3 separate regions of the Homo sapiens genome follow, and all the other regions are linked to region 3. The links come from fine-mapping of genetic effects on gene expression. A gene starts in region 3. Each other region holds a variant in brackets. All regions are shown on one strand. Distances are between the middles of the regions. Region 1 overlaps MAD1L1 (mitotic arrest deficient 1 like 1). Region 2 overlaps MICALL2 (MICAL like 2). Region 3 holds the start of TMEM184A (transmembrane protein 184A).

Evidence for each region.
Region 1: its variant is fine-mapped to the expression of TMEM184A in transverse colon (GTEx, PIP above 0.99).
Region 2: its variant is fine-mapped to the expression of TMEM184A in pancreas (GTEx, PIP above 0.99).

The regions. Positions count from the first base shown.
Region 1 is chr7:1,889,990-1,898,161 of GRCh38, reverse strand. The region is part of intron 18 of MAD1L1 (mitotic arrest deficient 1 like 1); the gene reads left to right. Among named protein-coding and RNA genes, the nearest start is that of MIR4655, 50 kb to the right of the region's middle. RefSeq lists enhancers at 6,787-7,287, 7,288-7,788. The variant C/T (reference allele first, on the strand shown) is at 4,192.
Region 2 is chr7:1,428,552-1,436,709 of GRCh38, reverse strand. MICALL2 (MICAL like 2) reads left to right here. Exons shown (of 17, transcript NM_182924.4): 16 at 1,563-1,609; 17 at 2,038-2,351. The coding sequence ends at 2,114. Among named protein-coding and RNA genes, the nearest start is that of MICALL2, 27 kb to the left of the region's middle. RefSeq lists an enhancer at 7,612-8,158. The variant G/T (reference allele first, on the strand shown) is at 3,551.
Region 3 is chr7:1,551,876-1,560,047 of GRCh38, reverse strand. TMEM184A (transmembrane protein 184A) reads left to right here and starts at 3,843. Exons shown (of 9, transcript NM_001097620.2): 1 at 3,843-3,934; 2 at 4,564-4,782. The coding sequence starts at 4,564. RefSeq lists enhancers at 1-200, 3,425-4,224, 4,361-4,655, 4,225-5,025 and silencers at 3,568-3,657, 3,698-3,767, 5,135-5,317.

The sequences.
Region 1 (8,172 bases), 340 kb before region 3:
CTCTGTCTCCTCCTGTGGGGAGATCCGACCGTAGCCCTCAGCAAAGGAGCAGCCTCGCGTCCAAAGGGGATGGTGTGGAGGGCTGGGCGGGAAGGAGGTGCACTGGCCCGTCCTCGTCACCCCCTGAGGCTTCTCAGCCTTGGGCCAACCCTATGTGGCTTTGCAGCCCTGGACCTCCTGGGTGCAGAAGACCCTAGGCTGTCCCCCTGACTTTCTCAGCCTCTGTCTGTCGCAACTTGGGCTTCGTTCCATGAGGGCTGCGGCCGTAGGCGTGTGTGTCAGTGTGTCCAGAGGCAGTGGTGCCTGGGGAGGACTGAAGTCCGTGTGGGGCCGGGGCAGGGGACGCCTTCCAAGATGCCAGGCTGCGCAGTGGGACAGCGCAGTCCCAGAAGCCAGCACAGGGCAAGGTAGACAGACTAGAAGAGGAAAGGAGAGCCAGCCGCATCTCTACACTCGCGTCCTGCGAGCCAGCAGGCGCTCTTCTGGTTTGCTGGTGAAGCCAGACTGGGTCCACCGTTGTGGACATGAAGAGTCCTCGGGCGAGCGGGGTCCAACAGCAGAAATTGGGGTGTTATGTGTTGACCCTCAGGGTGGAGGTGGCCCCACTTGGACCTCCAGCAGCTGGAGACCCAGGGCAACAGGGGCTTGTTCATCACTGCCCCGGTGAGCTAACCTCCGGTTTGTGAGGATGGTGCCGTCGGCCTGGTGTGGCATTGTGGCCCCGGCATGACCTCGTGGCCCCGTCTTGGCATGTGGCTGCTTCAGGAAGGGTGGAGGGGGCGGTGGCTGTGGGAGATGAGGACAGGCAGAGACGGGCCCCACCTGGGACTGCTGTGGTCTGGAACGGGCGTCTAAACTGCCTGCAGTCTGCAGCCTCTGCGTGTCTTTATGGAACCGAGAACCAACTTTGATTTGTATAAAAGCTGTACCCAGTGCGGCCTACGCATGTCCGTCAGCGTCTCACAGCGGTGAGCCGCTGCCTGTCTGATTCAGCCTTAGCCCGGCTCTTCCTCCTCCTTCTGCACAACCCGCCCGTCTTCACAGCCTGCGCTGCACGGGGGCACCGTGCCGGGCTTGCTCTGCGTTCCTTGTGGATTTCCTGCTTCTCAGATCACAGTCATCCATTTCTACACTCTTGAAACTCTCAAACCTTTGAATAATAAAAACACACCAAGTCTTTAAGCTATCAGAAATGTACTTCTTCGCTTTTGTATAATTCTGTATACTTTGAATAATTCACAGAGGTGTTTAATGCATTATACGAATTCCATAGGTTTCTAAAATGATTAGGTATTAATAAAGGTGTACCATGAACAGTTATCACTTAACATATCACTCGTTACATCAACATTTACAAATTAAGAGGCAGCGTTTTCCCCGGATCCCTGCGTGTGCTGTAGTTGAAGCGAATCTTAGGAAGACTAACTGCAGCGGAACCTTGGGGCACCCTCCACAGTGTTTTCTGTTGAGAGTGTCGAAAATCCAAAAGAGGGAAGCAAGCCACTCGTCATCTTCCCGCGAAAGGTGGCCGCTGTCCTGCTTCGCCGTGTTTCCTTTCGGTGTTTCATACGTAGGCACATGCCTAGGCATGTTCATTTACACCTGGGAACTCGGGATCCTGGGGTTCCATTGTGTGTGCTCCTGTGTCACTTTTTAAAAACACCGTCAGCAAGTAGCATCTTGACCACTGTAAGCCCTGCATGGGCTTCTGAAGCGCAGCCCTGCCCAATGTCCTCAGGTTTGCTGGACACCAGGTCCATCCCCGTCATACCCTCGAGCATGGGCCCTGCCGCTCTTCCTGCTCGAGCCAGCATCTCAGCTCCCCCGGCCCTCATCCGCCCGCCCAGGATCCCAGCCATGGCAGGATGTTGAGACCAGAAGGCTTGGGCTGGCCTCAGCTTGCCAGTGGCCGGACTTTCAGCCCCCATGGCCTGGGCAGGAACCCCTGCCCTCCTTTCCGCCTTGGAGCCCTCTCAGCCCCCAGGCTCCTGAGGTCAGGGAGAGGCAGGAAGGGGGCCCCAGGAGGAGGAGGCAGGCGGACAGAGAGCCCAGGAGCTGGCCAGCTCCCCAGCCCTGCTCGCCCCAGGCCTAAAGGACACACAGCGTACGGGAGGCCGGGCTCGCCCTGAGGAGCCGTGGTTCCTGCAGGGGTCTGGCCTGGGCCCCGCAGCTCTTGCCAGGCATCCTGCCCGCCTTCCTAGACTCTTGTGATCTGGAGCCTTGGCGCCTCCCCAGGCCGCCCCCTCACTGCCCATCCTCCAGCCCTTGCTGTCCCTTCTTTCCAGTGGCAGGCCTGGCCTGACCTGACCTTCTGGACCACGGCCTGTCCTGGCCCAAGGCCCGTGTGAATGTGACTTTGCAGGTCCTGAGGGCTGGATGTGCTGGGTCAGAAGCCATGGAGCTGAGGCAGCCGCCTCCGGAAGGACAGACGGTCCACTGGCCCAGTGCTCCACCAGCAAGGCCTGGTGCCCGCAGAGGCCCCGCTCCCCACCCTTCCGGCCACCCACCATGCCTGCTCTGGGCCGTGTTCCGGGGGCTGGCTCAGGTGGACAGTGTCAGGGAACGAGGTTGCTTTTAGCTTACCCACTTTCCCCATGTGTGACATGCACTGTGTTTTCATGCTTGAAGCTCACAGGATCAGGGAGATTAAGTAAAGTATGGAAGGGCTTTACAAGTTGATGTTTGCAGGCGGGGCTGAGAGCTGCGGGGTGGGCCTGGCATGGGGAGCTCTGGGCAACCCAGGCAGGGGGCTGACTCTAGGTGAGCTTGTGGGCTGGTGCCCAAGTGCAGCTGTTGCCAGGGGGGTGCTGGCTGGGCCTCTGCCTCATCTGTAAAGCAGGTACAGTTACGTCTGACCCACAGGAGTAAGTGGGGCCATGTTCCTGGCACATCCATCATGGTTGCCAAGACCCCACCTTGGTCCATCGGTTTCATTTCTGAGCAGTGAAGTCCCCGCAGGAAGAAGCTGCCAACTTGTGTCTGCGGTTTTCCCTGGAACCCCAGCATCAAGGCCCACCTGCTCCATCCTCTTCACCTGGGCCCAGCTCGCTTGTAGACACCTTCTCCAGGAAGCCCTCCTGGGTTCCCCAGATGTGGGACCCTTCTTCCGCTGGCTTCCCTCCTAGGACACGTGCCACCTTGTGTTTTTCCTGACAGGCGAGTCTGCCGGAGGTTTTATCCTGTTGGGTTCGTTGTCCCTTGAGGGTCCCCAGGGGGCCTAAGTGTGCCCCTCCTGTGTTTCTCCCCCACTGCTGGGTGCCTGGTTCTTAAAGATGCTTCTTGCTCCATTTCTCCCTAGGCTTCTTTTCACAGCCTCTTTCCCCCAGCCTCACCCAACCCCCACCCTCTACTCCTGCTCTTCCTCCTCCCTCTCCCACTCCTCCTCCAGACTCTGTCCTGCCCAGCTGATGTGCCCTGCTAGCAGCTGTGCCTAGCACCCCGCTCGCCCCCTCCCCTCTTTGGAGGGCTGGGGCCTCCCAGACCTTCCTGCGCCCCATCTGGTTGATGTGGAGGGATCGCCTGCTGGATATGGGCCTTTAGAGCATGTTCATGAGGGCTGACACTGGGCATGCAGCCTCACCTCCCCAAGTTTCAGTCTCCTCACCTGTGGAGTAGAAGTAACTGTGGCTCACTTCGGAGGCTGCAAGAGGCAAGTCTCATAAGTGCCACCTGTGGAGCTGGGGAGGGGTCATGTTGCACCGGGATCCCTGTTGGCTGGTTCAGCTCCAGCCCACGGTGCACCCGTGCTTCTCCCAGAGCTGTGACTAGCTCTGCCGGCCCTGTGTGTCCTGGTCCCTGCAGACCTTCTGGAGGGCCTGCAACATTTAGGGAGCTTTCAAAGGCTCCCTGTAAGCCGACTCTTCCCAAGTCCTCCTCCGAGCTGCCCTTCACTGGGTGAGGCCGTTGGCCTCCTGAGAAATCCTCCCCCTTGGGTTCCAAGAAGACAGCGCTAGAGCTGCCAAGTCTTCTGGCAGGAGCTCTGACCAGGAGATCAGCATCAGTCCTGCCCCATCCACCTGTCATTCCTGCCTCCTTTGTATCCAGGACACCAAGCTTGGTGACAGGAGAGGCACTTGTACTGTTCGCAGCAGCTCCACGCCCCCAGCTCAGGGCCTGGCTTATGGAGAGGGCAGTCTAGGGCTCTGCCAGACAGACAGAAAAACAGGTTTCAGTGGAGCAAAAGGGAAGAGA[C/T]AAACAGTGAACAGACAACAGCCAACCTGTAGGGCCAGGGCTCATGTTGGCACCTCTGCCTGCAGATGGTCACTGACTCCTTGGGGCCATGCAGCGGTGGCCCTGGTCTCCACTGTCCAGAGGAGAGATAAGAGACACTGTGGAGTCACCTTGTCCCGGGCAGCTCCTGACCCTGGTGTGCAGCCTTGGCCAGGCCACTGCACTCCTGTGAGACTCAGTTTCCCCATCTGTCATGAGGAATGTGGTCTGGGTGCTCCCTGGGGGCCCTGACCCTGGCCTCCTGGCTTCAGAAAGGCATCCTCAGGGGGCTGAGCATCACTAGGTGTGCCCAGGAGGGTCTTCCCTGAGCTACCCTCCTGAGATAGGGCCACGGAGGGCAGAGGCCAGTGTGGGAGGGCAGGGAGAGCAGGGAGACAGGCCCCCTGCCCCACCCACTCCACCTGGGGGCTGGCATACGTGGCTCCCGTGCTCCTGAAAGATCTCGCCAAACCCCAGCCTCCTGGCCATGTCATTTATTTTATCAGATTTTCCCCCAAATGATTCTTCAGGCAGAAAGGGGGCTGCAGACAGAGTTAGAAATAGCCGAAGCCGTTTCCAGTCAAGCGGGTTCCACAGATGTGTGCTGGGATAATTGAGGGTTTGCCGCACAGTCCCCCGCCACTCTGCTTCCCATCCCAGCCAGGACTTCCCATCCCAGCCAGGACTTCCCATCCCAGCCGGGACCAAACCTCTTGTTGCCGCGTGGGTGGAGGGAGCTGGCTGCCTGGGCTGCCGTTTGGGGGAAAGGCAGGCAAATCTCAGCTCCAGCTCTTCCCAGCGGGAACCTGCTGCCTCTGCTCCTCTCCCTCCTGAGAGGGGATAGAGATTCCAGAGTCCCTAGAGCTTCCTGGGAAGGCCATACTCTGCCTGGGCCTGGAGCGGGGAGGCTCAGCTCCTGGTCTCTCCATCCCGGCTGCACTCCTCCCAGTGGTTCTCACGGAATTTTCCCCACCTCCCTTTTCCCCTCTTCTCAAAACCCAGGGAAGGAAGCCTTCTGTTACGAGAGGGAGAAAATCAGTGGTAAGAAGAAGTGGAGTGACCAGGCCGGGGACACAGAGCAAATGCAGTTTGGGGCAAAACCGTGAGCTTCTGGGATCTGGGAGACACACTGGTTCCAGCAGGCTCCTCATTCCTTGCTGTCCAGGGCCTTCCCCGGCTCAGAGGCCTGCAGGGTGGGCGTCAGGGCCAGAGGCGTGGACGGCACAGATTCCGGAACTGCACAAACATGTGGCGATGTCGACCTACCGGGTTTGTCATATGGATGAGGGGGAAAGGTATACAGGTCCAGCCTCCCCGATTCGAAAACCTGAAGTCGGGAATGTTCCAAAATCCACAGCTTTTTTTATTGTGGGTCTGTCACTCAAAGGAAATGCTTAATGGAGCGTTTCCGATACCAGATTTTCAGATTAGGGATGAATATTTGCATGAGATGCTTACTCAACCAGTAAGCACGTAATACAGATATTCTGACAACCTGAAAATCTGGAAATCCCAGACACTTGGTCCCAAGCGTTTCCAATAAGGGATACTCAGCACTCACCTGTGTGTATATGTGTAAGTCTAGTACGGTCTCGCTTTGCCAGATGACAGGGATGCATGCTGAGGAACGTGCTGGTGGGCAGTGTTGTCTTTGCGGGAACTTCCTAGAATGACTTGTACGAGCCTGGGCCGTGCAGCCTCCCGCACCCTTGGGCCGCATGGTTTAGCCGGCTGCTGCCAAGCTGCAAAAGTGTGCAGTGCGTGACTGTGCTGAATGCAGTAGACCACCGTGGCGCAGTGCTAAGCATCTGCGTGTCTGTACGTGTTTAAATATGGAAAAGGTGCCATAAACATGATGTATGAAGGGTGGAAGACGGTGCACCTGCGTAGGGTGCTCACCGTGAACGGAGCTCGCAGGGCTGGCGGGTGCTCTGGGCGAGCTGGTGAATGAGGGTGAGTGAGTGTGAAGGCCTAGGACATGAGTGTGCACAACTGGAGACTATAAATGCCGTACCACTTAGGCTACACTCAACTATTAAAAATACTGTTCTTTTCTTCAATAATAAATGAATGGCTGGGCACAGTGGCCTGTGCCTATAATCCTAACATTTGGGGAGGCTGAAGTGGGGGGATCGCTTGAGCCCAGGAGTTCAAAACCAGCCTTGGCAACATAGCAAGACCCTGTGTCTACAAAATATTTAAAACTTAGCCAGGCGTGGTGGCGCCTGCTTATCGTCCCAGCTACTCCAGAGGCTGAGGCGGGAGAATTACTTGAGCCCCAGGAGTTAGAGGCTGCGGTGAAAACTATGATCGCGCCACCGCACTCTAGCCTGGGTGACAGAGTGAGATCCCATCTCTAATAATAATAAGAATAAAGTTTGTTGTAACTTTTTGAGTTTATAAACTTTTTAATTTTATTTATTTATTTGAGACAGAGTCTTGTTCTGTCACCAGGCTGGAGTGCAGTGGCGCGATTTCGGCTCACTGCAACCTCTGCCTCCCTGGTTCAAGCGATTCTCCTCCCTCAGCCTCCTGAGTACCTGGCATTACAGGGGTGCGCCACCACACCCAGCTAATTTTTTTGTACTTTTAGTAGAGACGGGGTTTCACCATGTTGGCCAGGATGGTCTCAATCTCCTGACCTGGTGATCCTCCCTCCTCGGCCTCCTAAAGTGCTGGGATTACAGGCGTGAGCCACCGCACCCAGCCTATTAAAATTTGTTTTGTATAACACTTAGCTTAAAGCACAAGCACATCCTACAGCTATAGAAAAATGTTTTTGTATAGCAGCCTTCCTGGGAAGAAGAAATAGCCCCGCACCCCTCGTCCTTGTGCTGGCCCGGGGTGTCGCTTCTGTGCACCCTTTTTTCCCCTCTGCCCATCCTTGCTGCCCCTGCCGGACCTCAGCAGGGGAAGGGGAGGTGGCGCAGAGCCCGCTTTCTGGCGTCTGTCTGATCCCGCCGAGGTCCCGCACAGAGCCCGCTGCTGGCGTCTGTCTGATCTTGCTGGGGTCCCGCATTCTCACTGTTGCATGGACTGTGGAAATCCCAGACAGGAAGGCTGTGCACCTCCCCAGGAAAAATGAGAACATGGGCGTCAGACAGGGTCCAGACTCCTCTACCACAGCAGGTTGGCCCTGGGAAATGACTTCTGGCCTCAGCTCCCCAAGGACAAAGTGGGGCCCGTGAGCACCCCTTCTCAGGTGCTGAGCGATGGAGAGCTGATAAAACAGCACAGGTGGCCTTGGTTTCGGGGCTCCCTCCTCCTCTCCCCGACATACCTGTAGTGGCCGGCACAGCCTGGGCCTCCGTGGAAACTGGCAGGATGGGCTTGCCTGGTGTCTTTGCCTGTTATGTTGCTATAAAGGAATATCTGAGACTGGGTGGTTTCTAGAGAAAAAGGAGTGTATTTGGCTCACAATTCTGGTGGCTGCTAAGTTCAAAAGTGGGCACGTGTGCACCTGGTGAGGGTCTCAGGCTGCGTCCACTCATGGCGGGAGATGAAGAGGAACCGCCCACTTGGGCAGAGATCACATGGCAGGAGGCCAAAGGGGTGGGGTGCCAGGCTCCTTCTAACAACCAGCTCTCATGGAAACAGAGAGAGACCTCACTAATTCCCTCAAAGGCAGTACCAGGCTGTGGGTGAGGCCTGTGACCCCATGACGCAGACACCTCCTCCCCATAGGCCACACTTCCAACATTGGGGATCCCATTTCAATATGAGACTTGTCAGGGACGTACCAACAGTACCCACACCAGAACACGTGGTCCTGGGGTGAGACCCTCCCGGGGATCCGAGCCCACCATACCCACACCAGACAGAGCGTGTGGTCCAGGAGTGAGACCCTCCCACGGATACATGCCCCTCCCAGGAGATGATTCCCCATTCTTGCCATAGAGAGGGGCCAGGAAGGCCCAGGTCCTGTGTGTCTTGAGAGTGGAGGCAGCTCCACCTCCCAGCTGC
Region 2 (8,158 bases), 120 kb after region 3:
CAGGCCAGGTCGCCTGGTCCATGCTCCCGGCCCTCAGGGTCAGCCAGCCCCGTAGAACTTTCTGACCAGGCGGTTATTGTCTATGCTGACTGGTACAGTAGCCAGGGGCCACATGTGGCCATCGGGGACTTTTTGAAGTCTTTTTTTTTTTTTTTTTTGAGACAGAGTCTTGCTCTGTCACCAGGCTGGAGTGCAGTGGTGCGATCTTGGCTCACTGCAACCTGTCCCTTCCAGGTTCAAATGATTCTCTTGCCTCAGCTTCTCGAGTAGCTGGGATTACAGGCGCACACTACCACACCCGGCTAATTTTTTGTTTTTGTTTTTTTTGAGACGAAGTTTCCCTCCTGTTGCCCAGGCTGGAGTGTAGTGGTGCGATCTTGGCTCACTGCAACCTCCGTCTGCCGAGTTCAAGCGATTCTCCTGCCTCAGCCTCCTGAGTAGCAAGCTCGCACCACCATGCCCGGCTAATTTTTTGTATTTTTGGTAGAGACGGGGTTTCACCATGTTGGCTAGGCTGGTCTTGAACTCCTGACCTCAGGTGATCTGCCCTCCTTGGCCTCCCAAAGTGCTGGAATTACAGGCATGAGCCACCGTAACTGGCCGTAAAGTCTTAGTTTTTTTTGTTTGTTTTGTTTTGTTGTTTGTATTTTTTTTTTTGAGACAGAGTCTTGCTCTGTCGCCCAGGCTGGAGTGCAGTGGCCGCAATCTCGGCTCACTGCAAGCTCTGCCTCCAGGGTTCATGCCATTCTCCTGCCTCAGCTTCCCAAGTAGCTGGGACTACAGGCGCCCGCCACCACACCCGGCTAATTTTTTTAGATTTTTAGTAGAGACGGGGTTTCCCCATGTTAGCCAGGATGGTCTCGATCTGACCTCGTGATCCGCCCGCCTCAGCCTCCCAAAGTGCTGGGATTACAGGTGTGAGCCACCGTGCCCGGCCAAAGTCTTAGTTTTTAACTTGAACTTCCAAGGCCACGTGCGTCTCCTGGCTCCTGCACGGACTGTGTGACTGTCCCCGACAGCTTTCCTGTCTCGTCTCATGAGGGGTCCAGCACATGGCATTCTGGGTCGGCACCTGAAGTCCACCTCTATGAGACCCTCTGGGAGCGTGACGGGGCCTTGGCATGGGTCGGCCGAGGCCCTTCTGTCCCAGGTCACTGGTGTGGTCGGCCCAGGCCCTCCTGTCCCACATCACCTGTGTGGTCGGCCCAGGCCCTCCTGTCCCAGGTCACCGGTGTGGTCGGCCCAGGCCCTCCTGTCCAGGTCCTCCTGTCCAGGTCACTGGTGTGGTCGGCCCAGGCCCTTCTGTCCCAGGTCACCTGTGTGGTCGGCCCAGGGCCCTCCTGTACCATGTCACTGTTGAGGGGCTGGCTCTGGAAGAGGGCAGGGACTTGGCATTGGTGGGGGCAGGGTTCCAAGGTGTGGCCTGTCAGCAGGAAGGGGCAGGTGGCATGGGTCCAGGCGGGACTCAGGGCTGGGGTGCCACTGCTGGAGACTGTCCGGAGGCCCCTCCAGGGCACCTTGCCATTGCCATTGTCGCTCATGGCCATCTGGTCCCGTTTCAGGGAACAAGAGGAGGATCAGATGCTGCGGGACATGATTGAGAAGCTGGGTGACTGGGCCGGGGATGCTGAGGGCTGGGCTGGCTGGCTGGGTGGGCCGGGGATGCTGAGTGCTGGGCTGGCTGGCTGGGTGGACCGGGCCTCCAGCTGGGGGTGGGGGGGGGGCGGGTATCGGGTCCCCCCCTCAGCCTTGGTGACAGGACAGGCAGGTTCACCCTGAGGGTGAGAGCTCCCTCCCGCCCCTAAGAGAGCCAGGGGCAGCTGGTGACCGTGTGGTCATGGTGGGGACCAGCCCTCCGGGGCACCCAGTCGGGGCAGGTTCTCACGTGGGAGGGCACAGGGCTTCCTGCAGGCTCGGAGGCCCAGGGCGGATTGTGGCCAGTGGAAGGGAAGGATGTTTCTGGCAGGGGGACTTGTGTGGGCCACGGCTGTGCGGCTGCGGCGTTGAGCACGGCCTCACTGTCCACCTGTCCCCTAGGCCTCCAGAGGAAGAAGTCCAAGTTCCGCTTGTCCAAGATCTGGTCACCAAAAAGCAAAAGCAGCCCCTCCCAGTAGTAGCCAGTAGGGCCGTGGGCTCGGCCCGGACCTGGCATCCGGACTTGGACTCGGGGCCATGGGCTTGGCCCGGACCCGGAACCCGGACTTGTACTCGGGGCCGTGGGCTCGGCCCGGACCCGGCATTCGGACTTGGACTCGGGAAGGGCCTCCTGTCCCTACAAGGGGCATGTGGACAGCAGGGACCTGCGCTACCGTCTGTGGTCTCAATAAAGAAACCGACCACATGGCCCCGGACTCCTACGTGCCTCCGTGTTTGCCTCGGTGCCCCTGGGCGGCCCCGCACCTGCCTGGGGTCTCGCCTGCCTCCCAGCTCTTGCCTGCAGGACGGACGTGCTCTGTGGCCTCGGGCAGGAGCCGACCCTCTCAGGGCCTGGCCCTCGAAGGTGGGCCCTTTCATAGCTTCCTGGCACAGATGGGCTGGTGGGAGCCTCAGAGGAGACGTCGGTACAGGCTGGAGACTTTGGGTGCTGGGTCGCCATGTATCCGTGGCCTGAGAGCTGTGACCTCGTTCTCCCAGGACTGGGGCTGGGATGGGGGATTGTAAGCAGTGGCCCCTGGTCAGGGAGACTTCCTGGTGGCCAGGGCGGGATGTGGGGTGCCCCATCCTTTCTGACCCCCACTGAGAGTGGATGTCGTGGGAGGAGCGCTGAGTCAGGAGTGCAGCGTCCCTGTAAGCCTCAGTTTGCCCATCTGTGCGGGGAGGGGCGGGCCTCAGCTGCTTGTTGCTGCGCTGTTTCAGCTGCTGTAGGAGCCTCTGCGGCGGTCCTGGGGAACCCTCAGCCATGGCAAAGCACCAGTGTTCTCCACCTGCTGGCTGGGGGGGTCGGGACCCCACGGGTCCCAGCAGGGCCAGAGCAGGTTCAGAGCCTGGAGCCCCTGCCGTGTGCGCGTGGGCCCTGGGGAGCTTGTGCTGGGCAGGCCTGTGGCATTCCATGGCCTTCACTGTGCCTTTGAGGGTCTCAAGACTCCTGGAACGTGAGCTGGGTGTGGGGCATGGAAGAGAGGGTGGGCTGGGGTGCACGGATGGAGCACAGCCTCTGCAGTCACAGCTCTGCTCCTGGCAGCTCTTTGGCCTCGGGCTAGGGCACTGCCCTTTCTGAGCCTTTGGTGACATAGGCTGCCTGGGGGCCGTGTGAGGATGAGAGGGGCCCACCGGTGTGCCTCGGGCAGTGATGAGGGTGGAGGAGCACGGAGGTGCTCTCTTGCCCTCTGCTGACAGCGAGACCCCCGCTGCCTCCCTCTGTACCCCCTGCTTCTGCCAGCCACTCGGGGCCCCCGTGGAGGGAAAGGGGCTCCCCCAGATGAGGCCATGGGTCACCTGCACACAGCAATGAGTGGGGAACGGGGTCGTGCTTTGCCTGGCCCTGAGGCCTCTCTTGGAGTCAGGCCACTGGGACCGAGTGTGTTGGTGGAAACTCCCTGTGCCCTCCGAG[G/T]ACTGGGAGGCAGTGGCTGGCAGCAGTGGGACCCTGGAGCCCCCAGGAGACTTCTGCAGGGGGGGGTCTCACCTGGGTGTCGAGGAGTAGGGGTCTCTCGGTGGATGGGCAGGGTGTGCCCTATTGCAGGAACAGCATAGGCAGTGATCTTGGGAGCTTGAAGATGTGTGGTGGGGCAGGTTGGGGCGGGGCCGGGGTCAGGGTCAGGTGAGGCGGAGCGGGTGATGGAGAGAGAGGGGCTCTGTCAGGACCTGGGCCGGCAGGGACCTTCCAGGTGCAGCGAGGTGGCCTCGTTCCTCAGGCACTGGGTGCCTGGGGTGGTTCTGAGCAGAAGCCCCAGGGCCTCTGCTGTGTTAGGAGCATGACGCCGTGGAGGGCGGTCTGGACCGGGTCCCGGAGCTGAGCCTGTGGGTCCCCCTGGGATCTCAGCCCCGTGGGTCCCCCTGGGATCTCAGCCCCGTGCTCACGTCGTAAGGCCTGACCCGCGGCAGTGTGGCCTCTTCACCACCAGGGGGAGGCAGAGAGCCACTTAGTGGAGAGGGGCAGCCGGGAGCCTGGAATAGCTCCGTTTTTCAGACAGGGAAACTGAGGCTGGGAGAGGGCTACGGCTCTCCCACGTCACACAGCAAGCGAGGCGGGGCCAGGGCAGGGGGCTGCGTAGCATTTTTGAGACCAGAACGGGAAGGGAGTGTTGTCCAGCAAGTTAGGGGCGTGGGCACCTGGGGCTCGGTCCTGCTGTGGACTCACACCTGGGGGTGTCCCACCGCAGGGCCAGGAAGCTTCCGCCCCCACCATCAGCCCCCTGCATCTGGGGACCTCAGAAGCAGCCCTGGGGTGCCAGGTGCGCTCCAGGCTGGGCACACAGTTGGTGCTCAGTGATCAGAGCCCCTGCAACAAGTGGTCAGGTCTGCCAGGCACTAAGCCAGCCCTGCGGGATGTCCTTGCTGTCCACCAGGGGCCCAGCACCTGCAGACCCCGGTGACACCATCATGGAGAGACAGGCAGGAACGCAGCCCTGGGGCCATGGGCGTTGGCCAGGCCCTGTGATGCCTGTGCTGCCTGTGCTGCAGGAGGCTGTGAGGATGGGCGTGGGAACCCCTGAGCAGCCACTCGGGCACAGGTGGGGCTGGCTGCGCCGCCGCCCGGCTCCTGCAGAGGCTGCCCCAACCCCAATGTGGAAGAGTTTCAGCCCGGGCCCCACCCACCCTAGATGACCCCTCACAACTTTCAGGGAGGGCAGAGGCACGCAGTTCCCCAGTGGCCTGGCTGGACGTCACCCACACCTGCCAGAGACTCCGGGCCAGCGTCTCGTGCCTGTGCACGTGGCAGGCAGTCCATGCACATCAGAGGCTTTCTCTCTACAGACATGGCTAGGAACAGCCAGTCTTCCTGAATGGATATGGGGGTGGGTGGGGCCGCAGAGAAGGGGAAGAGCTGTTCCCTGACCCACATCCCCGTCGGCCCCTGTATCTGCACTGGCCTCAATACTACAGCCTCAGGTCTGGGGAGCAAGGGCTGGATTGAGGAGTGTTCTGGGCTCAGGGACCGGTGTGGTCCTTCTGGTGAGCTCTGGGGTGGGGAGCTGACACTGGCCCCGTGTGGCTGCGTCAGGAGGGACAAGGAGGGAGGCAAGGCTGGACCAAGCAGAGTCTCCACTGGGATGCTTGGAATTTGGACTTGGACTTGAGTGGCCCCTCCAGGCCGGGCACAGGGGGCCAGCCCAGCCATTACAGGGCACTGGTCTGTGGGAGGGTGGGGGCAGCTGGTGGGGACTTGTGTTCACCCCTTGCGAAGCCAGGGCAGGCTTGGGCTGATTCCCAGGAGTTCTTCCAGCCTCACCTCTGTCACCCTTGCCCCCTCCGCTCCGGCTGCCGGGCCTTGGCCACGGGCGTTTGCATTTGCTGGTCCTGCTCCTGGGGCCCCTGCACTCCACATAGCTGGCATCCTGCTATCTCTGCTTAACTGCCCTTTTCGGAGAAGCTCCTGCCCCTCACCCTGATTTCTTTCTTTCTTTTTAGAGACAGGGTCTCACTCTGTTGCCCAGACTGGGGTGCAGTGGCGTGATCACGGCTCCCTGCAGCCTTGACCTCCTGGGCTCAAGTGATCCTCCCACTTCAGCCTCCCGAGTAGCTGGGACACCCGGCGCACGCCACCACGCCCGGCTAATTTTTAAAGTTTTTTTTTGTGGAGACACGGTTTTGCCATGTTGCCCAGGCTGGTGTTGAACTCCTGGCCTCAAGCAATCCTCCTGCCTTGGCCTCCCAAACTGCTGGGATGACAGGCGTGAGCACACGGCCACCCTGGTTTATTGCCAACACTCGGAACGCACCTATGTTTAGATGCTTGTTTGGGCTTCCTCTCTGTGACGGATCCTCCGGAGGTCCCGGCTCCTCCGTCTTTCTGCCACGCCATCCTCAGCGCCTAGAACAGTGCCTGACACACGGCAGGAGCCTGATGAGGATTTGTTGAATGAATGAATGACACCAGGGCTCAACGCCACTCCAGGACTCAGTCTTCTCACCTGTCAAGGGGGCTAGCACCTGGCCCAGGGTTGCTACCTGGTCCACTGGTCCAGGGAGACAGACCTGCTTGAGCCTGACTGGTTTCGTACTTGTGGGACCCCCGGGGCTGCCCCTGCCCTGCCCGGGGTGGGAGGATTGAATCAGGTCTCGTGGGGTGGGCAGTGGAGCCACTGCCAGCGGGCACACACCAGGCACCTCCTGCCCTACCCAGACTTGGGCTGAGCAGGGGAGGGACAGGGAGGGACTCGGGAAGAGAGCACAACGTCTCTTGGGGGATTTTCCGGGCATCCCACAACGGGGGGCTGCCCTGTTCCCTGGGGCCCAGAGAGGGAGCCTGGCCCTGGCCCCGAGTGATGAGCACAGCCCGGCCGGGCCCAAAGACCGCCCCCCACCCTGATCTGTGTAAGCTGCGGGTCCCGGCCGGGGCCTGGGAATGTCATAGCTGGTCTGCCCCGCAGGGAGCGGGGAATTGACATGCAGAGCAGACCTCAGCCGCTTCCATGGTGGGGCCCCCTCACCCCTGCCGCCCCATCTGCCCTGCCCAGGCCTCCTGCTCCAGCCCCGCCCCGATGCACAGGAACTGGCTTGGCCCTTCCCACAGCACCTCAGCTACCCCCAGACCCGTTTTCAGAGGAGGGTGTTGAGGCCAGAGAGGGGAGGGACCTTCCCAGTCCCTGAGCCTGCCAAGGTGGGCCCAGCTTGGGGTGGGGACAGAGGGGCTGCTCCTGGCTGGGGCAAGAGTTGGAGGGGTCTCCGATGGGGGCATGGCCACGCCCTGTGCCATGAAGCCCCTCACAGAAACTAGGGAGTCGTGGGCAACACCCTGTCCCTGTGACAGGAGGGGAAACTGAGTCACGGAGTGCCCAGGGCCCCATGGCAGGAGTGGGCAGGGCCTGGTTCTTGTGCCTTGGCCTCCATCTGGGAGGAGGCAGGGAGCAGAGCTCAGACTCCTCCCAGTGAGGGCCCCCCATGTGGCTCTGCTGCACGGCCCCAGTTGGGGGGCTCCCTGGGTGGGGGGGCTCTGGGAAGCCCACAGTTACCCCCAGGTAGAAATGTCTGTGGCCTGCACCTCTGCAGCCTGGCCTCCTTCCAACCTCGAGCGGCCGCTGTGAGGGTGTCTGGGAAGGAGGAGCTTTTCCTGTGTCTTCTGGCTTCTTCCTGCCCCTCCACGTCCTTCCAAGGCCTCACGGGGACCCCAGGGACAGCCATGCCTTGCTTCTCTCGGGTGAATCATGGAGAAGGGGCCTCCTCTGGAGCCCAAGACGCAGGGGGGCTGAAGGGGTCTCCTCTGGAGCCTGAGACGCAGGAGGCTGACGGCTGCCATGCAGGCTTGCTCCCCAGCGGCCATTCCCTGCCAGGCCCACCCTCACCTTTGTGGGGCCCGGGAGAGAGTTGAGCCCGAAGCTCCCCCCACTTCTCCTCCCCGGAAGCCCTGTTTAGCTTTGGGAGGGAGGAGCCTCCCACCTCGGGCCTGGGAGCCTCCACGCCAGGGCTGGGAAGGCCTCAGGAGGACTCGAAGGGGGTTTCAGGGTGTGCGCTCAGGGAATTCTGGGGTCCCGGGTGCTGGGGCATCAGGTGGGAGGTGGACATGAGCTCTGGGTGGCCCCCTCGGCCCTGCAGACCCCGCCAGGAGGGGCACAGCCAGATCATACGTCCGGGCCCTGCTCCTGTCTGCGGGCCTCCTGCTGGGTGAACCTCCCTCACCCTGAAGCTGCCCTGGCTCCTACTGGTCTGGAGCTTGGACTCCCAGGGCCCTGCTCCCCGGGGACCCTCCCGGCAGAGGCCTTTGTCTGGCTGGCTGTGATGGGTCCTGACACCCCATCTGTCTGTCTGTCGGTCCACCTAGGTGTTTCCCCCCGGGCCGGCCTGCCGTGACGATCACAGCCCTGCCGTCTCAGGTCACGGTTTTGGATTCTGCGCTAACGAGGTCTCCCAGGTGGGCTGGAAACACTGATGAAGACGGATAGAAAAAACACCAGCCCACCGGATTATTAATAAAGATAATCACACACACCCCTTCGTCGGCAGCCGGCCTGACACTTTATAAAGCACGTTAGGATATAATCCAATTGAAACTGCAATATCG
Region 3 (8,172 bases):
CTGGCCAGGCTGGCTCTCCCATGCAGCAGCCTACGTCCCTAGAAGGGCAGATGACAGGGAGGCCAACCTGAGGCCCTGGCCCGGCCTCCCTGACCTGCCGCATAGCTCTTGCCGGTGGAGACAGGCCCAGGCTGGCATAGGCTCTGCCTGAGGTCACAGACACCTCACACAGCCAGAGCCAGGCCCCAGCTTGTGGCATGTGGTCCAGGGCCTGCTCCTCCTGGCTGTGGGGGCTGCTCCCCGGCCCCAGTGAGGAGGGGGCATGTGGGTCACCAGGAGGCCATGCTGCCTGCCCGCCCCACGCGGCTCTCAGGAGGCCGTGCCCGTGGACAGGAGCCGGGGGAATCCCAGAAGCAGAGCCGGGAGGATGTGGAGCCCCATCCCTGTCACCCCCTGCTCACACCCGGGGCTGCTGCCTTGGTGAACTGCTGGCCAGGGCCCCCAGGGGAGGGCCGCGGGACCTGGGAAGCCGGGTGTCTGAGATGGGTGCCCACCGGTCACCTCATCCCCCTAGTGTGCAGCTCAGCCTGGGACATCAAATGAGCCAGCCCTGAGGAGGCGGCTCCTGGGCGCCCCGAGTTCCACCCAGCAGTGAAGGAGGCAGGCAGGGGGGTACACCATGCCTGTCCGCATCTGCAGAGAGACGGGCAGGCAGGGGGTCGGGGTGGGCACTAGCAGGGCAGCCGGCCTGGAACCAGGCAACAGCTCATGGGCCCTCAGCCGGGTTTCTCATGAGAGCAGGAGGAGGTGGCTGTGCCAGGGCCAGGGTGTGGGACTGGCTGGGCGGCTTCTCAGCCTCCCCACAGCTCTGGGCACCTGGACGCAGTGAACAATGGTCAGAGGGCCCCGTCGCCTGGATCTGGGCAGACAGGTCTGTCCTGCAATGGGCTTGGTCAGTGTCCCGCCCCCGCCAGAAAAATCAGGCCCAGCCGGCCCTGCCGCCTCCTGTGACCGGGCGCAGAGGCTGTGACACCAGCACCGGGTGAGGCCTCGATCAGCCGGCGAGCCCTGTGAGCAGGTGGCAGAGCGGTCAACCTCCCGACTGCCCCTCCCTGGGGACCAGGCCCTGCTCCTGACATCCCCAGACCAGTACACTTGGTCCACGGTTCCCGAGCTGGCGCATCTGGCTCAGCCGGGACAGCTGTGGGCTGAGGAGATCAGCAGGCCTCCCTGTCCAGTGCCCAGCTGGCCCTGTGAGAAAACCCCACCTTTTTCCACAGAGGATCTGCCTCTGGCGGAAGACAGAGCTTTGGAGGTCCCTCAGTCTGTGTCCGGGGCCCAAGCCCTGAGCCTGCCCGAAGCCAGAGCCCTCCCAGAAGCCTGGCTCTGCTGGCTCCAGCCAAAACGGTCCTGCTGACATCTAGCCACAGTGCCTCCTGCTGTCTGCACAGCCATTCCCACCGTCAGCCCAGGGAGGGGCCCGAGGCTTCATCCTGTGCTGGGGGCTGGACGCAAATCAAGCAGGGGCTGGGGCCTCAGTTTCCCTGCCTGTAGCATGAGCGAGTTGGATGAGGGGATTCCCGGTCCCTTCCAGCTCTGCGCATGCCCAGGCACCAAAGTCTTCACCCTTCAAACGGGCCCCCAGCCATCGTCACTTCATAGTTGTCCGTGACGGTGATCCCGACACAGCCAGAGGGCGACATCCACACGCGCTGAGCCGACTGCCTGGGGCTCTGCAGGCCGGGTGGGAGGCCGGCAGGAGTACCTGTGGCTGCAGTGGGAATGCAGCTGGATGGAAGTTGGGGACCGCCTTCCAGCACCCCTGCCTGGCCAAAGGGAGACCTTAGCCCACAGGGTCACCGCCTCAGCAGGACAGCCCCCACCCCGCAAGCCCTGTGCCCCGAGCATGGACAGGGCACAGCTCTAGGCTCTGGCAGCTCCTGCAGAGGGAGGACCAGCAGCAAACACAGACAGGTGGACAGGGAGTCACACACACAGTGAGGAGGGTGATGGGACAGCGGGGATGGTCTCTCCAGAGGTGACGCCTGAGGCTGCAGGACAGAGTCACCCGGGAGCAGGGTCGGTTGGTCCAGAAGGTCCCTGCCTGGGGAGCAGGCAGGCTCCAGGAGGGCCCAGCCAGGGTGTGCATGCTGTGGCTCTGGGCCCGGGCCCGGGTGGGCGCTGATGGGGAGGTTAGGCAAGGCGGGCCTGAGAGCTGGGCACGACTTCCTGAGCTTGTTCCCCACCTGGGAGCCTCCCTGGAGGGACAGTGTCAGTGGAGGAGTTGGGAAAAGCAGGCAGGGTGTCCCAGGGAAGGATGGGCCTCAGCCCGGGCCCCTCACGGACCCCTCAAGGATGCTGGACGCGTTGATGCGCCTCTCGTTCCCATCTCTAAAAGGGGAACAGGCCGGACGTGGTGGCTCAAACCTGTAATCCCAGCACTTTGGGAGGCTGAGGCGGGCAGATCACCTGAGGTCAGGAGTTCAAGCCCAGCCTGGCCAACGTGGTGAAACCCCGTCTTTACTAAAAATACAAAAATTAGCTAGGTGTGGTGGTGGGCGCCTGTAATCCCAGCTACTCGGGAGGCTGAGGCAGGAGAATCACTTGAACCCAGGAGGCGGAGGTTGCAGTGAGCCGAGATCGCGCCATTGTACTCCAGCCTGGCGACAGAGCGAGGCTCCGTCTCAAAAAATAAATTAATTAAAAATAAAAGGGGAACAGTGGCTCCAGTCATTCCAGCCTCAACCCCTTGAGCCCTGTTGCTCAGGGCTGTGGGAGGGTAGGAGATATGAAGGACAAGGAGTGTGTGGATCCGTTGCGGGCATGGAGCGGGACTTGGTAATGGTGGCCCCAGCGGCATGAGCCCAAGCGTAACCAGAACAGGACAAGAGGTGGGCTGAGGGCCCACATCCCTCTCCCAGGAGCCGGGGTGAGTGAGTTTTTTCTCCACAGGGGCCTCTGCATGGGGGTGACAGGGACCCTCAGGGCCCCGCAACCCCTTGCCAGACCCCAAAGGGTCCAGGGACTGGGCTGTCACTCCCCCTCTCCTGCCTTGATCCACAAAAACCAGAAATATTTCCTTTTTTTTTTTTTTTTTTTTTTGGACACAGAGTCTCCCTCTGTCCCCAGGCTGGAGTGCAGTGGTGTGATCTCAGCTTACTGCAACCTCCGCCTTCTGAGTTCAAGCGATTCTCCTGTCTCAGCCTCTTGAGTATCTGGAATTACAGGTGCACGCTGCCACACCTAGCTAATTTTTGCGTATTTCGTAGAGACGGCGTTTCACCATGTTGGCCAGGCTGGTCTCGAACTCCTGACCTCAAGTGATCCACCCACCTTGGCCTCCCAAAGTGTGGGGATGACAGGCGTGAGCCACCACGCCCGGCCCAGAAAACAAATGTTTTCAACTCATCTCTTGGGGCGTGGATTTTTTTTTTAATTCAGATGAAATTCACATAACATCAATTTACCCAGGTTTAAGTGAACGATTCGGTGGCGGTAAGTATATCCACAGTGCTGTGTGCCTGCCGCCTCTACCTCATTTCAGGACTCCTGTCACCCCCCAGAGAAACCCTGTACCATTAGCTCTCCACCCCTCCTCCTGCAGCCCGGCCCTCCTTGGCCTGCCGCAGACCTCTCCCACGTGTCCCCACCAGGTGGCAGCTGCCTGGCCGTCTGGCATAGGCAGGTGAGGGCGCCAGGCGGCCAGCAGGTTCCTGGGAGCCAGCTGCCACCCAGCAAACAACCGGGAGGATAGGGTGTCAGCCGTGGGAGGGGACAGGAGGGGACGGGCCTGCAGCCTGGGGCCCAGGTGGGCCACTGGGGACGTGAGGCACTGGCCGCCCCGCCCCAGCCTGGCACAGCCCTTCAGATCCTGGCCTTGCCGCACCCACAGTGGGGCCTCCAGTTGGGGCCACGTGGCCATGAGAATGACCAGCTAGGCTTCCCTGGAGGCCAGGCCTCCCTGGACTGGGCCAGGTGCTTCCTGCCAGCAAAGGTAGAGCTGGGCCCTGTGACCGCAGACCAGAGGGAGAGGAGGAGGCTGGACTGGGCTGCGAGTGTGGGAGAGGGTGGACTCAGGGCCCCAGCAGGTTAGTGGGAGATGGAACAGGCACCCAGGGCTGCCAAGAACCCCAGCAAAGCCGGGCTCCCAGGTGGGTGGACAGGTCCCAGAGCCAGTGAGGGCCGGCTCCTCCCATGAGGGTGGCTGCACACCCCCTCCTGCCGGGGCAGGCAGTGCTGGTCTGCGCCCGCTCCCCAGCCCTCCCGGGCAGGCAGGGCGGCAGGGGTTCCCCCTCTTCTGCCCCACTGGAAGACGGTCTTTGTCCCCTAAGAAGCAGGCTCCCTGCAAGCCTGAGACTCGGAGTTGGAAGCTGGTTTTACAAGGGGGAATTGAGGTGGGACCCTCAGGTCGCAGGTGGTTGATGGGTGAGCTTCGATGGCTGAGCTCGGAGCAGGGAGGGAGCCGGGCCTGGCGCTGGTGTCCGTGTGGGGGGTGCGGCCTGGTGGGTGGCTCAGCCTCAGCTCCCGTCTCACTGTCTCCTCCCTCCCCCGCTGCTTCCTGCTGCCGGGAGCCAGTACCTTTGCCCTCACTCCTCCCGGTGTGTGTCCTCCCTCCCTCTGCAGATGAGTAATGTCTCAGGGATCCTGGAGACAGCCGGCGTCCCCCTGGTGTCAGCGAACTGGCCGCAGCCCAGCCCCCCACCGGCTGTGCCAGCTGGGCCGCAGATGGACCACATGGGGAACAGCTCCCAGGGGGCCCCCTGGCTCTTCCTCACCTCCGCACTGGCCCGAGGCGTCTCGGGGATCTTCGTGTGGACTGCCCTGGTGCTCACCTGCCACCAGGTAAGCCCTTCCGCCCCCGAGCCTCCTTCAGGACCTTGGTCTCCACAGGACGTGGCCGTGGCTCAGCCCGGTCCCCCTGGGTGCCGCTGCTATAGACGCTGTCAGAAGTGGGATCGGCCAGGGCACGGGGGAGGGGATGAGCTTCCCCAGGATGTGGCATGTGGGAGCTGGGCCTGAAAATGGGGAGATCTCTGCCAGGCTGAGGGCAGAGCGCCCACCGGGCACCCCTGGCTATTTCACAGGCTCGTCACTCGGCTCACTGAGGTCTGCAGTGTGGTCCCATTTCACAGACAAGAAGACTGAGTCTCAGAGAGACCAGAGGTCTTTCCCAGGCTCACATAGCTGGAAAGGGGAAGGGGCCTTCTCCTTCCAGAGGCGTGACACCCTGGAGAAGGCTGGTGGGAGGTTGGCAGGGGGTTGGACTTTGCTCTGTAGGGAGCTGGGGAGCAAAGGTCACAGCTTGTTAGAGGGACCGGGACTCCTGTGCAGGAGATGGGCGAGAAGCAACTTCCCCAAGCCCGAAGCCACACACAGCCCCCGACCCGGAGCAGTCCCCAGGTGGGAACAGAACAGCCCCCAGGTAGAGAAGCGGCCAGGCGCTGTGGCAAGGAAGGGCCAGGCAGGGGCAAGGAGGAAGTGGTGCCCGAGGGCAGGGGCTGGGCAGAGAGGGCAGGGAGTCAGGGACAGGACCCTCCTGAGAGACTCAGATACACAGAGAGGCCAGGGCGGTGTGCGCAGGGGTGGGGTGGGAGTGCGTGTGTAGGCCCGCGAGGGCCACACGGCTGCAGGGATTTGTCCAGAGCCCTTGACCCCAGTGCGGTGAGGTGGCTTTCAGGGGGTGCTGGGAGCCCAGGAAGGCTGTGGAGGGCTGGGCTGAGGGCAGAGCTGCTTCCCGGGTGCACGGGGCACTGGTGTAGGGAATGGATCTGTAGGTGAGCTGGGGCAGGGGGCCATCAGGAGACTGGCAGGCAGGGACACCGGTGGCCACAAGTCTCCGAGGGAGCATCTCAGTGACAGTTTATTAACTGCTTATTAGCCGGGCATGGGGGCCTGCACTGTTAGTCCCAGCTACTTGGGAGGCTGAGATGGGAGGATCGCTTGAGCCCAGTTCAAGGTTGCAGTGAGCTGTGAACAGATAACCAGAACCCACGGTAGACGTGTATGAGTGTGGCCTGGAGTGTGCAGAGCCGCGGAGGCAGTGCCGAGGCAGGCCCTTCCTGTAAGGCCATCAGAGAGGGCTTCCCGGAGGAGGCCGTCTTTCCGCTGTAATCCTGGGAACCGGCTGTGTGTGCGCGGCTGTAGTGTGGCTTTAGCTTCATGGGGCCTCGCAGTCAAGACAGGGCTCATGGAGACCCCTTGGGCTGGAGTTCAGGCCCTGTCCCACCCCTGAGCCCACCGCCAGAGTCACCCTTGAGTGAGGAGTCCCAGGCAGGACACAGAGTGGCTGGATCCCCCTCACTTTATACATGGGAGGACCGAGGCCGGAGAGGACAGTGGCTTGTCAAGGTCACCCAGCCAGGCAGCGCCAGCCCCGGGAGAGGTCTCCTGATGGCTGGTCATGCCGTCCCTCCCAGGGACCATCGGGGAGCGTGTGACTGATAAGAGTCTGTTCCTGCCTCCAACCTCCCCCAACTCCCTGAGCTGCACCCCAAGCGGCCAGGTGCACGTAGCCTCTGCTCGCCCACCGCCACGCATGCACCTCCTCCAGAAGGCCTTCCCCAGGAGCCCCTGTGCGCCCAGCTCCCAGGCTCGGCTGACCCTGTCTCAAAGACCCTGTAGTTGAGTTGTATCCTCACAGAAAACATGGAAAATCGGTCAGGCGTGGTGTCTCACACCTGTAATCCCAGCATTGTGGGAGGCCAAGGCGGGTGGATCACCCGAGGTCAAGAGTTTGAGACCAGCCTGGCCAACATGGGGAAACTCTGTCTCTACTAAAAATACAAAAATTAGCCGGGCATGGTGGTGCGCGCCTATAATCCCAGCTACTCAGGAGGCTGAGGCAGGAGAATCACTTGAACCCGGGAGGCGGAGGTTGCAGTGAGTTGAGATTGCGCCACTGCACCCCAGCCTGGGCAACAGAGCAAGACTCCGTCTCAATAAAAAAAATAATAATTAAAAATTAAAAAAAATAAAAACGTGGAAAATCTAGAAAGGTTTAAAGGCAAACACTACTATAATCACCCATACTTTTTCCCAGGCTTTCTTTTTTTTTAGGCAGGATCTCACTCTGTGACCCAGGCTGCAGTCCGGTGGCACAATCAGTGCTCACTGCAGCCTCCGCTTCCCGGATTTAAGCCATCCTCCCACCTCAGCCTCCCGAGTAGCTGGGACTGCAGGCGCCCGCCACCACGCCTGGCTAATTTTTGTATTTTTTAGTAGAGATGGAGTTCGCCCTGTTGACCAGGCCGGTCTCGAACTCCTGAGCTCAGGTAATCCGCCCACCTTGGCCTCCCAAAGTGCTAAGATTACAGGCGTGGGCCACCGTGCCTGGCCCCTAGGGAGGGACAAATTCTTAGGAATCAAAGGGTGCACATCCTTTGGATGCCCCCACAGCAAAAGCCAATGTGCCTTCTGAGAGTCTGCCCAGCCCAGGACCGGGACGTGTCCCCTCTCCGTCCCCCGGGTTGGACACTTAGCTGGGCTCTAGAAACGCCTGCTGAATGAAGGAATGAGTGAGCGTTCCCATTCCCAGGCTAAGAACAAACAGGACCCTCACTCATGCCCAAGGAACTTATTCAGAAAAAAAAAAAAAAAAAACCTATTGTACAACATGGTGACTGTTATAAATAACAATGTATTCTATGCTTGAAAATTGCCAAGAGAGTACATTTTACATGTCCTCCCCGCAAAGAAATGCTAAGTATGGGAGATAATGGAGACGTTAATGGGTTTGACTCAGCCATTCCCCACGAACACACATATCAGACATCGCGCTGCACACTGTAAATGCATACAATTTTGATTTGCCAATTTAAAAAATAAATTTTAGGCCAGGTGCAGTGGCTCATGACTATAGTCCCAGCACTTTGGGAGACGGAGGCAGGAGGATCCCTTGAGCCTAGGACTTTGAGACCAGCCTGGGCAACACAGTGAGACCCTGTCTGTACAAAAAATACAAAAATTAGCCAGGCAAGGTGGTGCACACCTGTAGTCCCAATACTCAGCAGGCTGAGGTAGGCAGATCACTCGAGCCCGGGAGTTCAAGGCTGCAGTGAGCCATGATTGTACCACTGCACTCCAGTCTGGGCGACAGAGCGAGACCCTGTCTCAAAAAAAACCTGGGCAAGAGAGCGAGACCATGTTTCTCAAAAAAATATTTTTTTTTTTTTGAGAAAGGGTCTCGCTCTGTCGCCCAGGCTGGAGTGCAGTGGCGCAATCTTGGTTCACCGC